Linked DNA regions of Homo sapiens: region 2 is linked to region 1. Evidence: fine-mapped expression QTL. Tissue or cell type: whole blood. Region 1 holds a variant in brackets; the other region holds the start of a gene. All regions are shown on one strand. Distances are from middle to middle.

Region 1 (8,108 bases):
TACCTCGGCCTCCCAAAATGACCAGCCTGGCCAACAGGGAGAAACCTGGTCCTACCAAAAATACAAAAAATTAGCTGGGCTTGGTGGCGGGCACCTGTCATCACAGCTACTCCGGAGGCTGATGCAGGAGAATCACTTGAACCTGGGAGGCGGAGGTTGCAGTGAGCCGAGATCGTGCTGCTGCACTCCAGCCTGGGTGACAGAGCAAGACTCTGTCAAAAATAAATAATAAAAAAAGAAGCTTCACGTCATGATCTCTGACAGACACTTTAGGTTGGCTTACTCCACACGCATTGCAATCCTCTTCTGCCTTCCTCTGCTATAGAGGGGGGAGCTAAGAACTCTTATTCACCAGCCTTCCCTACAGGAAGGGGTGATGATTGGACACAATTCTGGCCAAGAAGATGTAGAAAGAAATCACTTAAGGAGAGGTGTTCTGGAAAATCGTTGCTTCCGTATTAAAAGAGGACAGAAGTGTCAATGTGGCTCTTCATCCTATCCCACCTTTTCCTGACTGGAATGTGGCCACAGCCTCCGAGGGTGAAGATGTCTTTTGGACATGAAAACAAAAGCTACACACAAAAAAATGGCAGAGCCCAGGTCCTTGGAGACATTTGAAAGCATCGCTCCACAGAGAGTGGAATCACGGTCACCAGAGACAGAGTAGGGAGTGGGAGGGGAGGATGGAGAGAGATAAGTCAATGGGTTCAGAGTTATAATTAGAAGCCCTGCATAGTGGCATGCACCTGTAGTCCCAGCTACTGGGGAGGCTGAAGGAGAAAGATTCCTTGAGCTCAGGAGTTTGAGGCCAACCTGGGCAACATAGCAAGATACCATCTCAAAAAAATGTAAAATGGGCCAGGACCAGTGGCTCACGCCTGTAATCCCAGCACTTTGGGAGGCCAAGGCAGGCAGATCACTTGAGCTCAGAAGTTCAAGACCAGCCTGGGCAATATGATGAAACCCCATCTCTACAAAAAATACAAAAATTAGCCAGTTGTGGTGGCATGCACCTGAGGTCCCAGCTACTTGAGAGGCTGAGATAGGAGGATTGCTTGAGCCCAGAAGGTTGAGGCTGCAGTGAGCTGAGATTGTGCCACTGCACTCCAACCTGGGTGACAGTGTCTCAAAAAAAAAAAATTAAAATTGAAGTAAATAAATAATTGAGAACAAAGTTACAGTTAGATAAGAGGAATAAATTCTGGTGTTCTATTGCACAGTAAGGTGAGGATAGTTAACAATAAGATATGGTATCTTACAAAATAGCTAGAAGGAAGGCTTTTCAAAGTCATCACCACAAAGAAATGGTAAGTGCATGAGGTCAGGATAAATACACAGATTCGATCACTATATAACACTATTGAAACATATATTGTACTCCATATATATGTACAATGACAATGTGTTCATTAAATAAATAGAGACATAAAAAGCACTGGGAGGCTGAGGCAGGCGGATCACGAGGTCAGGAGATTGAGACTATCCTGGCTAATACGGTAAAACCCCGTCTCTACTAAAAATACAAAAAAAAAAAAAAAAAATTAGCTGGGCTTGGTGGTGGGCACCTGTAGTCCCAGCTACATGGGAGAGGCTGAGGCAGGAGAATTGCTTGAACCTGGGAGGCAGAGGTAGCAGTGAGCCAAGATTGTGCCACTGCACTCCAGCCTGGGCAACAGAGCGAGACTCCGTCTCAAAAAAAAAAAAAAAAAAAAGCATTGTTCCGGCCCTTGTCTGCGTACCCCTAGACTTCTAATTATGTAAGAAAAATAACCACTATTTGGTTTTCTGTTATTTTTGATTCCTAAGCTATATGATTCTATGGGATTTAGCCTGAACAAGAGGAGCTCATACGATAGAAGAGCAAAACGGCAACACCCACTCTCTTTTCCTCCCCCGGTGCTTGGTGCCAGTAGGAATATGTTCTTTAGTATACTTTGGAATACCAGGATCCTAAAGTTCTTCTGGACTGAGTAGGAGAGTAGAAGATGAATTGTTGCAATACTAATTACCCCTAAGGGATTACTGGATACCCTTCACTTAGATTCCTGCCTGACTCCATGCACTTTCTTTTTCTTTCTTTCTTTCCTTTCTTTCTTTCCTTCCTTCCTTCCTTCCTTCTTTCTTTCCTTCTTTCTTTCGTTTCTTTCTTTCTCTCTCTCTCTCTCCTTCCTTCCTTCCTTCCTTCCTTCCTTCCTTCCTCTCTTTCTCTCTTTCTTTCTTTCTTTTTTGAGACGGAGTCTCACTCTGTTGCCCAGGCTGGAGTGTAGTGGCGCGATCTTGGCTCACCACAACCTCTGCCTCCTGGGTTCAAGCGATTCTCCTGCCTCAGCCTCCCAAGTAGCTGGGATTACAGGTGCCCGCCGCAACGCCCAGCTAATTTTTTTGTATTTTTAGTAGAGACGGGGTTTCACCATGTTGTCCAGACAGGGTTTCACCATGTTGTCCAGGCTGGTCTTGAACTCCTGACCTCAGGTGATCCACCCGCCTTGGCCTGCCAAAGTGCTGGGATTATAGGCGTGAGCCACCATGCCCAGCCAGCATATTTCTTGAATAGACATGACATGTACCAGAAATTTACCTCTGGGATCTCAGGAAATGAAGATATGGAGGCAGAGAAGAGACTCCAACACAGTTTGTGAGACCACATCAGAGACCTCCAGAAGTTAGGTAACCAGCAGGTAATTCATGCATTAGGAAGAAAGAAAAACTTGGCCCGTATACATGTGAAAGTCATAAATGTTCAAGACCTTATCAAACATCCAAAACCCTTCTTCAGTAGGTTTTTGATTAGTTCTTCTTACTGAGTCTCAACACTTTTCATGATTTTTCCTCTCTGGTCCCAGGCTTTACTTGTGTACTTTGCGAATTATCTAGGCCAGTCCTATCATTGCTTTAATTGCACTGCTACTTAGGCAACGTAGGACTCTATGAAAGGATTTCGAAGCCTGCATTTGGCTCTGTTAAGATGTCAATGTAGGGAGTTACAGCAAAAGCTCTTCCAACTCTTTGGACCAAATATACTCACAGTAATCAATCTATTCCTTTAAATTTGCTCCTTCTGCCTCTCCCATTACTTTTTTTTTTCTTCTTTGAGACAGAGTTTTGCTCTGTTCCCCAGGCTGGAGTGCAGTGGCACAATCTTGACTCACTGCAACCTCTGCCTCCTGGGTTCAAGTTATCCTCTCACCTCAGCCTCCCGAGTAGCTGGGACTACCGGTGCATGCTACCACACCTGGCTAATTTTTAAAATTTTTTTGTAGAGTCGGGGTTTTGCCATATTGCCCCGTCCCACTACTTTTAATATAAAAATGGTGGTGTTAAAATATTTGCTGTGAAAATGGTCTTATCTTGAATCAAGAAACTGCTTCAGAGGGTTATCACAAATTGATGTAATCTATTAAAAAATGACAAAATATTACCTCTCTCAAATTATATAAGATGGAGACTTAAAGTGTAAGACACTCCCTTCTCATTAAAATTCAGCATCATAAGTTTCATGGTTTTTTGTTTGTTTGTTTGTTTGTTTGTTTTTTGAGACAGAGTTTTGTCCTCGTGGCCCAGGCTTGAGCACAATGGTGCGATCTCTGCTCACTGCAATCTCCACCTCCTGGGTTCAGGCAATTCTCCTGCCTCAGCCTCCCAAGTAGCTGGGATTATAGGCACCCACCACCACGCCCAGCTAATTTTTTGTATTTTTAGTAGAGACCATGTTTCACCATGTTGGCCAGGCTGGTCCCGAACTCCTGACCTCAGGTGATCTGCCCGCCTCGGTCTCCCAAAGTGCTGGGATTACAGGCATGAGCCACCATGCCTGGCCCAACAATATATCTTTTTAAGAGTGAATCTGAGACTTGATCCTGGAATTCTGGGTTCTCTGTTCTGCATTTTATTTTTATTTTTACTTATTCATTTTTTAGAGACAGGGTCTTGCTCTGTTGCCAAGGCTGAAATGCAGTGGTGTGATCATAGTTCACTGCCACCTCAAACACATGTGCTCAAGTGATCCTCCCACCTAAACCTCTCGGGTAGCCGAGATTACAGGCACATGCCACCAAGCTCAGCTAATTTTTATTTATTTATTTATTTATTTATTTATTTTTGGAGATGGGGTCTTTCTATGTTTTCCAGGCTTGTTCATTTTATTGACACTGTATAAAGCAAACATATTAATAGCAGCCATGAACCTCAGAACTACAAAATTGCTGTAGGTCAGTATTGGACCATTTCTGCTCTAGTAAATTTGCAATGAGATTTCCATTCCTTTTCTCCCACATGGCCTCATCTGTTTAAATTACCTGGGTCAACTAAGAAGGATCTACAAAGTTTATCTTCAGAAATGAACTTTTCTGGGGTGGCACTGGAAATGCCTAAGCTGCATAAGATTTTGGGGCTTGGAACCTTCTGTACGGTAACTTGGGCCAAGGCATTCGAGTGATCGGTGAGAATTTCATAAGGAAAAGTGTGCTTGGGAGGGGAGATCCCACACTGTGACAGCCTCTGCTGGGACCTGGAGAGCCTCTCCATGGGAGAGAGTGAGCTTGCCAGTAAGCTGCGGTA[G/A]AGGAGCTCAATCATGGATGCTTGCTTCTCTTTTTTAACCACTGTGCACCTGATAACAGGTTGGAGATCTCCTCTCACATCAGCGCCCCTGGTGAATGACATGACATTCAGGTTTCTAGCAAGTACTTCCTGTGCTTCGTTAAGTGAAATACCATGCATTTTTAGAAGATTTGATTTCTTGCTCTCCTTATTAAAATTCTCAATACATGCATATAATTCTGGAAGCTGTGGACAAAAAAAAAAGTGGTAAGTCACGAGACTGACAAAAATGTAATATTCTGGCAGACCTACAAACCCTAGAAAAAACCATAGGACAATAAATAACCATAAAGACAAAAGCATTTTTATCTTTGGAAGATATCTTTGCCTAACTAAAGCAAGTCAATTGTGGCAATGTGGAATAGAGAACAGAGAGGTCAAATCTCCGATTCACTCCCTTAAAGATGTATTATTTAGACACGTCTTATAAATGCTTGTTATAAAATTAGGCAGTTAGAATTGAACTAAGAAGTCTTGAAGATCTTTCCAACTCTGAAATTCTATGAGTGACCACGGAGAGAAATAGCTGTGGGAGACTGTGGCCTTTGCTTGTTTTGAACAATGCTATTATGTCTTTGAAGGAAGAAAGCGAGCCAGATCACTTAGATATCAGAGCTTCATCCTGTTGTCCAAAGAGCCCATAATGTTCAGGAATCCAGTGCTGAGGAGGCGACAATAGTCATTGCTCACTGGGATATGTGACCAGAGCAAATGGTGACATACATTGAGTATCTGGGAATAGTTATTGGCAGAAAAAAACAGTAACAGATCCCTGAGAGGACCTGTCCCCATCTAAAATCCTATACTTCCTACAAATCCTATCCTTTCTAAGAGGTTTCTTAGGCCATTACACTGGAAGGCCAAAGAGGCCATAGTCTCAGGTTAGGGCTGAAATTTAGGTCCTTTAGCCCAATGCAGAGTTTTCCTTCAATCCTAGTCAATTTTATTGCAAGGGCAACAAATAGAAAGTGAGCTAACGCGTGGGAAAGTAGAAGGGACTTTGGACGTCTTCCAGAATGTCAAGAGTCTGCGGCTACAGAGGCTACACAAGTGGTCCAGACCCTGGAACCAGTATGAGCTCTGCTACAAGGTGGTGCAGGAATATATGGATGCATTCTCAGTTACGCCAACTTCAAGTAAGAGGCGACAAGGGCCCGTGGACCAGGAGGATTGCTTTTAATATTTTATAATAGTCTGTTTTGTTAGTTTACCCCAAATTGTGTATCTGTCTTGTAACTGTTTTAGAAATTGGTACATAGGTGGAGATTTTATAAGTAAATGTGTTAGCACTGATAGTCTTTTTTTCCAGTGTTTTTTTGGGGAGTTAAATAGTGTGATGTTTGGACCGATATCATGAAATCTTTAGCCTGGAAATTGGGCTGGATTGTTCTCTGGTTAATACATCTTTTCCTAAAGAAAAAAAAAAAAAAGAAAGTGTGCTAACATTGGTGAATGGCTCTTTATAACGAATTATACAACCACACTATCACGAAAACAGCTCAGCACTTCTGCCCACCTGCCCTGGGAAGAGCTACACTTCTCTGTGACTAAGAATGTTAAGTCATTAAAGTGACATTTTGGAGTTTCCCATGGCTCCCAAGTGTGTCACTGTGCGTTCAATAGTTTGAATGTTTATGATTCTTGAATGTAAAGCTCCCTGTGTACACCTCGTTGTACAATGTTAAGTACATACTGAACATTGAGGAAGGGTGGCTTCTCTATTGTCCTCAGCTGGACTGGTGTCTCCAGTGAGGAACATCGTGCTGGGATTTTATTCTCTAATTCCTAAAAAAAGCAATATGAGAAAAGACAAAAATCAAAGATTAAAAATCAGATAGAATACAAAGGGGGAGGTGAGACTTCTTAAATCTTAATAAATTTGTGAGTGGGACATTTTGAAAATTTTATACCTGTATTAGTCCATTCTTGAATTGCTCTAAAGAAATATCTGAAACTGGGTAATTTATAAGAAAATAGGTTTAATTGGCTCATGGTTCTGCACACAGTCCAGGAAGCATGGTTGGGGAGGCCTCAGGAAACTTACAATTATTGGGGGAAGGCAAAGGAGAAGCAGGGCACGTCTTACATGGCCAGGACAGGAGAAAGAAAGAGCAAAGGGGGAAGTGCTATACACTTTTAAACAACCGGGTCTCATGAGAACTCACAATCATGAGAACAGCAAGGGGAAATCCTCCCCCATGATCCAGTCACCTCCCACCAGGCCCCACCTCCAACACTGGGGATAACAATTTGATGTGAGATTTGGGTGGGGACACAAATCCAAAGCATATCAATACAATTTAAACTTTTCATTTGCTTTTTCGTAGTTTAGGTCTGCCAAATTTGTCATGCTTCAACTGAGCATTTCACTGAAATACCCAAATTCTTCTACAACATGTGTATTTAGTTTTAATACTAGTGTAACAAATCCTATATGGATGGTTTTATTTTTTATTTTATGTATTTATTTTTTTGAGATGAAGTTTCACTCTTGTTGCCCATGCTGGAGTGCAATGGCACGATCTTGGCTCACTGCAACCTCTGCATCCCGGGTTCAAGCAATTCTCCTGCCTTAGCCTCCCAAGTAGCTGGGATTACAGGCATGTGCCACCACACCTGGCTGATTTTGTATTTTTAGTAGAGACAGGGTTTCACCGTGTTGGTCAGGCTGGTCTTGAACTCCTGACCTCAGGTGATCCACCCACCTCGGCCTCCCAAAATGCTGGGATTACAGGTGTGGGCCACCACGCCCAGCTGGATAGTTTTATTTTCTTGTCTTACATATTCTGATCAACTTTCAGTTCATCTAAAGAAAAACTCACCCACCTCCTTACACTCAAAAAGTGTTTTTTATTCAGGAGGAAAAGGCTCATATGTAATGATAATAATAAAAACAATAAATATTTTGAAAATAATTTACTTTGTGTCAGATACACTATAAGGCATTTTGCAGATGGAATTGTGTTTAATTTTTCTGCAAGACGTTAAAAATGGCCATGGAATCTCCACAATTCATCTCATTGATAAGTGGCAGTTAAGTTCTCTCCCACATTTTACTGGGCTGGCCTATGCTTGGCTTTGATCAATAGCTTGTGGCATTGTGTCAGTGACATAGTGTGAGTGCCAGAACCCAGACCTTAAGAGGCTTTGCGGCTTTCCTACACATTCTTGGGAGCCTGAGCCACCATGTAAAGAGAGATCTGGCTGCCTATCTGGAGAGACCATGCAGACTCAGCAGCCAGTATTGACCACTAGACATGTAGATAAAGCCATCTTGGTTCACCCAGCCCCAGACGAGCCTCCAGATAACTACAGCAGCATAAGCAACCTCAGCCAATCCCAGATGGAGAAGAACTACCTCCCAGCTGAGCAAGGCAACTCTAAAATTTTGACAAAGAGTAAATTATTATTGTTTCAAACCACTAAGCTTTGCATGAATTGTTATATAGCAATAAATACAGATAAACCCCATAAAACTTCACATTCTTGGCTTAATTTATTCCAGTGAAACC
Region 2 (8,108 bases), 130 kb before region 1:
AAAGAGCCCAGCAGGGCTGAAAACCAAGAAGAACCGAGAACCAGCTGAAACTTGCAGTGTTCCCCAACTCGCACACAGACCTACTGATAGAGGGATGGAGACTGACCTGGCAGGTGACTCCTGGTTCAGTGCTCCTTGGAGAATTTGGATGCCATGAAGTGATATTAGATGTCAGTTTAGCTACCTGTTATTTTGAGTGCTTCCTTAGCGGTACTGTTGAGGCAGTGTGGCTTAGGAAAAGAGTACTGATGTGGGTCAGGCCAAAAGGAATTTTAATCCTAGCTTTCTTACTATTTGCATGAATTTTGGTGAGTTGTATAATCCCCCTCTCTGTATCTTATTCAATCCTTGTAAAAGTCCATTGAAGTAGGCTTACTACTGACCCCATGTTCTAGGATGCAGTGATATGAGACTTTAAATATGTAAAACCTTTTGTTGTGAGGATTAAAAATTACAGCGGCAATAAAGTACACACCACATGATAACTGCTCGATAGGTTTTTTTTTTTTTTTTGGTTTGGAAATAAAAGGATATCTCATGACACATGAAAATTACATGAAACTAAAACTTCTGTATCCATAAATAAAGTTTTACTGGAACAGAACCATGCCCATTCATTTACATATTATCTGTGGCTACTGGGCTATAACAGCAGAGCTGAGTAGTTGTGACAGGGACCACAGGGTCTGCAACATCTAAAATAGTATCTGGTCCTTTTCAGAAACAGGTTGCCAACTCCTGCTGTAGTTCAATGGTCCTTAAAGTGTGGTCCCCATATTAGCAGCATCAGCATTACCTTGGAATTTGTCAGAAATGCAAATTTTGTGGCCGACCCCAGACCTACCAAGTCAGAGGTCTGTTTATTCCACTAATAAATGCAAACACAGGACAGCAAAATACCGTGGCTGGCAAAGCTCTATACTGAGTCAGCCTTGCATGAGATACCTCATGAAGTAGAAACTATGCTGATGTAATCAGATCTGACAAGACACAGGCCCAAAATACTTAAAATTAAGAGAAAGAGTATTTAAAACAGGGTTTCTACCTCTAATGTTGTTAACAAATCCAGCCCTATGTGTATATTGGGCCTTGAGACACAATATAACCATAACAGCAAATACATGTAGTTTATAAATAAGCAACAAATGCACATACAGAAGAGTGTTAAAAAAGTTTTTTTATTACTAAGAAACATCAAAAAAGTTGGGAAACGATAGCAAATTACAATATAAACAACTATAATCATATTATATAGTATTTATATATGTACTTTTTTCTGTCAGGCACTAATCTTCAAAATCTTAGCAAGGGAAGTCCTACTAATAAAGTGCTTAAGGGTTTTAAAGGAAAATAAGACCAAAATGTAAAAATCTGAGAAGGCATGGACTTTTTTTTTTTTTTTTCCTGAAAGTGTGAGAAATATCTGTGTGAAAGAAAGGAAAGACTCTCTGGAAATTTAAGAAACACTTCATAAATTTGGAGACAAGTCTCTCTTTTAATGTAACTTCATCAATAACGTGAGAAGTCCAGAAAACCACCATGATCTTTAAGAACAGTTTTTGGGGAGCAAGTGAAATATCATTCGCCCTTTTCTAAGGTGAGAGCAAAAGCATAGTAGCACCATTCCTTCTGTTCCTTCTACTTTTTTACAAATGTTTAAAAAATTGTTTTGTTTTACAAAAACAGAAGTGCTTTTAAAAAATCCCAATTACAAATGTTATTTCTCACATTACGTCACTGAAAAAGAAATGTATCTTTTTTCATAGGGCAACTTATTTTTTTTTTATTTCAAGAAAAAACAAGTAATAACAATAATGCTGCAGAATTTAAGCCAAAGGCACAGAACACCGCTCCCCCGCCCCCAATGGCCACCCCAGGTCCTTTGAGAAAGGCGGCTGGACCTCAGGGACCACGCTGCCTTCAAGCTCCCTCCCACCAATAGTGCCCATCAACTGACACCTGTCTTCTTCTCAGCACACCTGCCTAAAGTGATGCTCCACCCTTCCTACTGATCCACGCAGACGCATTTTCCCCAGGTTCTGCCCTCTGTACTTCCAATGCAGAAAGCCAGCTCGCACTTTCACAGGATAAGGGTAGCAGTTCCCTCCTTCCTGGGGAAGGTGGCCATATATATATAAACCCGGGTAGCCCTGGGCCTGCTATGGTCAGCTGTCCTAACTGTTGTTTCTGCCCAGCCCTCAACAACAACAACAACAGCGGGTGGAATGTAAATGCAAAATCTTTTCATTTCCCATCAATAACTGGACCTAAACCAGCCATTAGAAAGCAGATGGTATCCCTGGCCCTTAATATCCAAGTCACCACAATTTCCTGGCCCCACCCTCAGCACTACTTTCCTCTCATTTCTTTCGTTTTCCTGTAAAACCAACTTTAAAAAAAAATGTGAAAATTGGATAACCTCTCCATAGGAGAACAAAATGTATCTTAAAAGCTAACCTCTTTTCTTTAACCATCCTAACAATTCAATTTTTGTTCACTGACACCTTAAGAATTGAGTGTCTGGCCTAAAAACAGTAAGTCTTAGCAAGTTACTAGTTTCTATTAAGAAAGAAAGTAATGAGCTTAGCTTCATCTTTTATAACACAACTGGAAGAAGCTAGGATGCCTTTGGAGACCCACAAAAACTGACAAGAGATTGTCCCATGCCCTCCAAAATTCAGAAATACTAAAACTGAGATTTGAGCCAACCTGATGGCCATGAGCTAAACAAAGCCACTCAAGCGCTGCTAAATACTTCATCAGGTTATTGTGTATCTCACTAATCCAGCCCTAGAAATGTTCCTCAATAATGTGCATAATGTAGGGCCTAGGGACCCCAAATCAGACAAAGAAAACCTCAAAATCGTGAAAGTCACACAAGTTTAGTTTTGCAAATCTGGCTATGGGACATCTGAAATTGTCCAGCATCATCATGGTATTTCAAATATAATAATTCTTAAATTTTGCTAAAAAATTTCATCAAAATTGTTATTCTTCACATTTTGTTTCTTAAAAGCAAATCATTAAAAATATTAAATGGGATATGATTTTTACAGCAGGGCAAAGTTGTGTGGATCCTCCACGTTGGCAAAGGTGGAAACACAGGTATGCGAGAAAACCCCGAGCATCCACGAGAACGGGATGCAGCCGCGCTCTGGACGCGCGGCGGGAGGACCCGGAGCCCAAGCTCCGGGGTCACCAGCCACGAGGCCCAGCGGCAACGTGGACCCCAGGGCGGCCGGAGCGCGCCTGGGGCTGGAGGGGAGGAAGAGGCGGCGGGAGCCGAGAGACTCGCGGCTCGGCCAGCCTCCCGCGCCTGGTGCAAATCACGCTGCAGAACTGGAACTAGTGCGACTTAGGGGGTGCACGCTTTTGACTTTGGATGCCGACGCGCGTGACAAAGCTCAGAACAAAAAGACAGGCCCCGCATCGCCTGAGACTGCAGGGCAGGGAATCCTCGCGAGGCCCCTCATCGCAGGGCAAGGGGGCCGCGCGCCCGGTCTTGGGGAGCGAGCCGAGGGGCCCAGGCAGCCGCGGGCTACTCGGTGCAGGAAGGTGCGGAGCCAGCCCCGAGCGCAGCCAGCGAAGGTTGCAGCCCCGGCGCAAGCCGCGGGGAGGCTCCGGGGACCGACGCGAGGTCTCGGCGCGCGGGGTACGGGCCCTGGGCAAAGGAGGGAGGAAGCGATGGACCGCGGTTCGGGCAGCCTGGGGCCGCGCGCCGCCCACTCACCTCTTTTCGAGGCTCCGGCCGCCACTCGGGGATCCGGGGCCCCGCTACGAGGCCGCCCGGGTCGCTCTCCCGCCGCCGCCGGCCTCGAGCTCCGGCCGGCTCCGCGCCGTGCGCCCAGCGCCTCCGCGTCCAGCGCCGCCGCGTCTCCGGCCTCCGCAGCGGCAAGGCCCCGCCCCCGAGCAGCGCCGGCGGCGCGAAGGGAGGAGGCGGCGCCGCGAGCGCGGAGAAGCGAGGCAGGGGCTGCCGGGGCCGCGCGGACTCCCGGCCCCACGGTGCGCGCGCCCCGGCCGGTGGCCGCCCCTCGGCGGGAGCAGGAACGCCAGCGTGCGCCCAGTTCTCGCCGCTGGGCGTTGCCCCTTCCCCCGGGCCACCCCATCGCCCCTTCCGACGCGGGAGCTGGCGCCTGAGCAGCGACGCGGAGCGGGGAAGCGGCTGTGGGGAAAGGGTACCTGGGGGGAGCCCCCATCCCACGTTCCGCCCCGAGGGAATGTTCCCGAACAGCCAACCGCACCCAGCGCCACACTCACGTTACCTTCTTTATAAAAGTCGTCGGGTCAAAACTGCCCAGAGAAGGAAGCGAACGAAAAACAGGTTTTTAGGGGGCTTATACTCACAAAATTGTCTTTTTTCTCCCACGAGGCATTCCCTGTTGACCATCATCTCGCCTCGGTTGTCACCGCTCAGGCCTTAGTGTTTGGTCTGTGACCCTTCCACTGCTAGCAACGGAAAAAGTGAAGATTCCCGGACGCCTTCGGGTGTGATCTTATAGCCCGGGCAGCTGCATTTGAAACAGCGCCTCAGATGACGCTCAGGCGCACTGATGTTTGAGAAGCCCTATGAGGCCGTACCTCCCGGAGAGAATGCCACAAAACTAGTGACCTACAGGGAAACCATGCTAGAAAATTCTAAAGCAATGGTTCTTAACTCTGGCAGCACCTGCCATCCATTAGAATTATTTGGGGAGCTTTTAGAGCATTTAGGAACCAGGGTCCCACTTCCAGAGTTCAAAGTGAACTTGATATTTTTTGTTTGTTTTGAGCTTCCCAGATAATCCTAATACAGTATACGGCCAAGATTGAGAACAGTTTTCCTAGAATCATGTCTTCATGTCTTCCTAGCTCTGGTGTCTGGGAAAGGAAACTCCTTCCTCTGCGCCTCTCTCAAATCACAATAAAAAAACAAGTAAATACATGAACACCTAAAGGAATGCTCACAGCTGAAATTGATTTTAACCAGAACAAAGAGTCACCTTAAAAAAGGTGATCAAGATACCCTATTGCTACCTGAGCATGGAGCTTCTTAACTGCAGGAAACGTATCTTTACCAGCTAAAACCTCTTAGCTGAATTAGAAGCTGACCATACATGACCCCTTTAGAGGAATGTTCTACTATATTCCAAAATGATATTTTTGTTATCTGCAACTGTTAAACTGTTGTAGGGTCAGACCAAAGCATTCAGAAGCTGAGGCTGTATCAGATGTCAGCCCTGGTTTTGCAGACTTAAGTTGTGTCACTTTGATCTTCTAGTGAGCTTAAATAACCATAATCGGGGACAGGTACAGGAAATTCCCTTTCTTGCCCATTTTAGCTCTCTTAGTATAGTTTACATTCTTAGACTGGTGGACTGTAACTTCTATATCATTTGGCTCTAAGGAGGGTCTCCATTAGTCTCTCATTTATCAGCAACTAATTAGCGACTCACTCAGTGATTCTTAAACACTTTATGGAACAGGTCCATATGTCTAGGTGCTAAGGCAGCTGGCTGAATGAGCTATATTTTAATTGAAGATGAATTAGTCCTTTTCGTTAGATTCTTTATGACAAAAGTTGAAAATTTTAAGATGCAGTTTTATATATATCTATATACATAATTTACATTCCTTATAAAAAAGCTAATCAGTTGCTGGCCCTGAAAATTCAATTGGATGGGTTTTGATTAAACAATGTGCAAGGGGCTACAGTGGTTGGTTGAAGGAAGCATCCATGTTTTGCCTGTTAAGCATCCTTTCCTTAATGTCTTAGTCCATTTTGTGTTGCTATAACACAATTCCACAGACTCAGTAATTTATAAAGAAAAGAAATGTATTTCTCATAGTTCTGAAGGCTAGGAAGTCTAATATCAAGGTGCTGGCATCTTGCAAGGGCCTTCTTGCTGCATCAGCCTGTGGTGGAAGGCAGAAGGGCAAGAGGGTGTATGTGAAATTGAACTTGCAGCCTCAAACCCTCTATAATTGGCATTAATTTATTTATAAGAGTGGAGCCTTTATGACCTAAACACCTCCCTTTGGGCCCCACCTCCCAACACTGTTGCACTGGAGATTCAGTTTTCAACACGTGCTTTATGGAGCACACATTCAAACCATAGCATTCTGCTTCTATGCCCCCCACCACCCCCAGTTCATATCCTTCTCACATACAAAATACATTTATTCCATCCCAACAGCCCTAAAGGCTTTAATATTTATTTATTTATTTATTTATTTTGAGACAGGGTTTCACTCTGTCCCCCCGGCAGAAGTGCAGTGGTGTGATCATGGCTCACTACAGCCTCAACCTCCTGGGCTCAGGTGATTCTCCCACCTCAGCCTCCTGAGTAACTGGGACTACAGGTGTATGCCATCATGCTCAGCTAATTTTTTTGGTATTTTTTGTAGAGATGAGGTTTTGACATGTGGCCCAGGCTGGTCTCAAACTCCTGGGCTCAAGCAATCCACCTGCCTCAGCCTTCGAGAGTGGTGGGACTACAGTCATGAGCCACTGCACCTGGCAGCCCTAAGGTCTTCACTCTAGCACCAACTAGAAAGTCCAGAGTCTCATCTAAATCAGATATGAGCAAGATTCAAGGCACAATTCATCCTAAGACAAATTCCTCCAGCAATGAGCCTGTGAAATTAAAACAAATTATTTACTTCCAAAATACAATGGTGGCACAGGCACAGTATAGGTATTCACATTCCCAAAGGGAGAAATATGTAAGATAAAGGGGTAACTGGTCCCAAGTAAGTCCAAAACCCAACAGGGAAAAAATAACATTAAATCCCAAAGCCTCAGAATAGCCTTTCTTGACTATATCTCACCTTCTAAGCATACTAGGGTGGGAGTTGGACCCCCAAGGTCTTGGGCTGCCCCATCTGTATAACTTGGCTGGGTGTAGTCATGTCACAGAACCTCATGGTTTGTAGTCTCATGTCTAAAGCTCTTCCAAGCTGTGTTGCACACTGGTAGCTCTACAGTTCTGGGGGCTCTGGGACAGCCCCAACCCCACAGTTCCATTGGTCATTGTCCTAGTGGTGGTTCCCTGCTATGGCTTTGCTTCCATGGCTCCACTAGGCATTTCCCTGGTAGGGAATCTCTGTGGCAGTTCTGCCCCTACGGCAAGTTTCTGCCTGTATCCCCAGGCTGTCCAGTACATTCTTTGGAATCTAGGTGGAGGCTGCCATAGCCCCATAGCTCATGAACTCTGTGTACCTTCAGAATTAGCACCACATGGATGCCGCCAAGGCCCACCACTTACACCCTCTAGAACAGTAGCCTAAGCCACAGCTGGGCCCACTTGAGCCACACAGCTGCAACAGCTGTGGAGTGCTGTGCTGGAAAGCGGGGAGCAGATACTTGAGGCAGTGCCTGGTAGCAAATGCTGAGGTCCTGTGGCCACGTCTCTGGAAACCTTGCCTTCAAGGTCCTGCTCTGGGCCTGTGATGGAAGGGGCAACCTAAAAAATCTCTGAAATGCCATTGGGGTCTTTCTTGTCTTGATGAATAGCACCTGACTCCTTTCTAGCCATGGTAATCTCTTTAGCAAGGGGTCCACTGGACTATATCCCTACAAGGACTTACATCTTTATGAGGCTCTCCCAAACATGCCTTTGCACTCTTGGCCAGGCTGAAAATTTTCAAAATTTTTTTCTGCTTCCTTTTTAGTTATAAATTTCATCTTTTAATCATTTATTTCTTCTCTAATTTTACTGTAAGCAGCCAAAACAATCCATGCAACACCTTGAATGCTTTACTGCTTAGACATTTCTTCTGCTAGATATCCTAGTTCATTGCTCTTAAATGCTGCCTTCTTTTCTCTAGCTTACCTTATTGTAAGAATACAGTTTATAATACATATAACATGCAAAATATGTGTTAACTGTTTATGTTATCAGTAAGGCTACCAGTCAACAGTAGGCTATCAGTAGTTAAGTTTTGGGGGAATCAAAGTTAAATGCAGATTTCCAACTGTGCAGAGATGGGGGTGTCCCTAACCCGTAGATTGTTCAAGGGTAAACTGCATGAAATAAATTGAATTGAACAGACTAAAAAGTATTTGCTGTAAATATCTTGCTGTGTTTGCTTTCAGTATCCATTATTTCCTTTCTCAGGTACCAACATCA

Evidence for each region. PIP is the estimated chance that this variant, and not a neighbour inherited with it, causes the effect.
Region 2: GOLM1 starts here. The variant in region 1 is fine-mapped to the expression of GOLM1 in whole blood (INTERVAL, PIP 0.94).

Annotation. Positions count from the first base shown.
Region 1 is chr9:86,223,249-86,231,356 of GRCh38, forward strand. C9orf153 (chromosome 9 open reading frame 153) reads right to left here. Exons shown (of 4, transcript NM_001276366.4): 2 at 6,290-6,381; 3 at 4,607-4,782. The coding sequence starts at 6,355. Among named protein-coding and RNA genes, the nearest start is that of C9orf153, 32 kb to the right of the region's middle. The variant G/A (reference allele first, on the strand shown) is at 4,558.
Region 2 is chr9:86,095,681-86,103,788 of GRCh38, forward strand. It overlaps GOLM1 (golgi membrane protein 1), which reads right to left and starts at 3,878. Exons shown (of 10, transcript NM_016548.4): 1 at 3,731-3,878. RefSeq lists an enhancer at 3,319-3,819 and silencers at 3,450-3,499, 3,660-3,759, 3,770-4,089.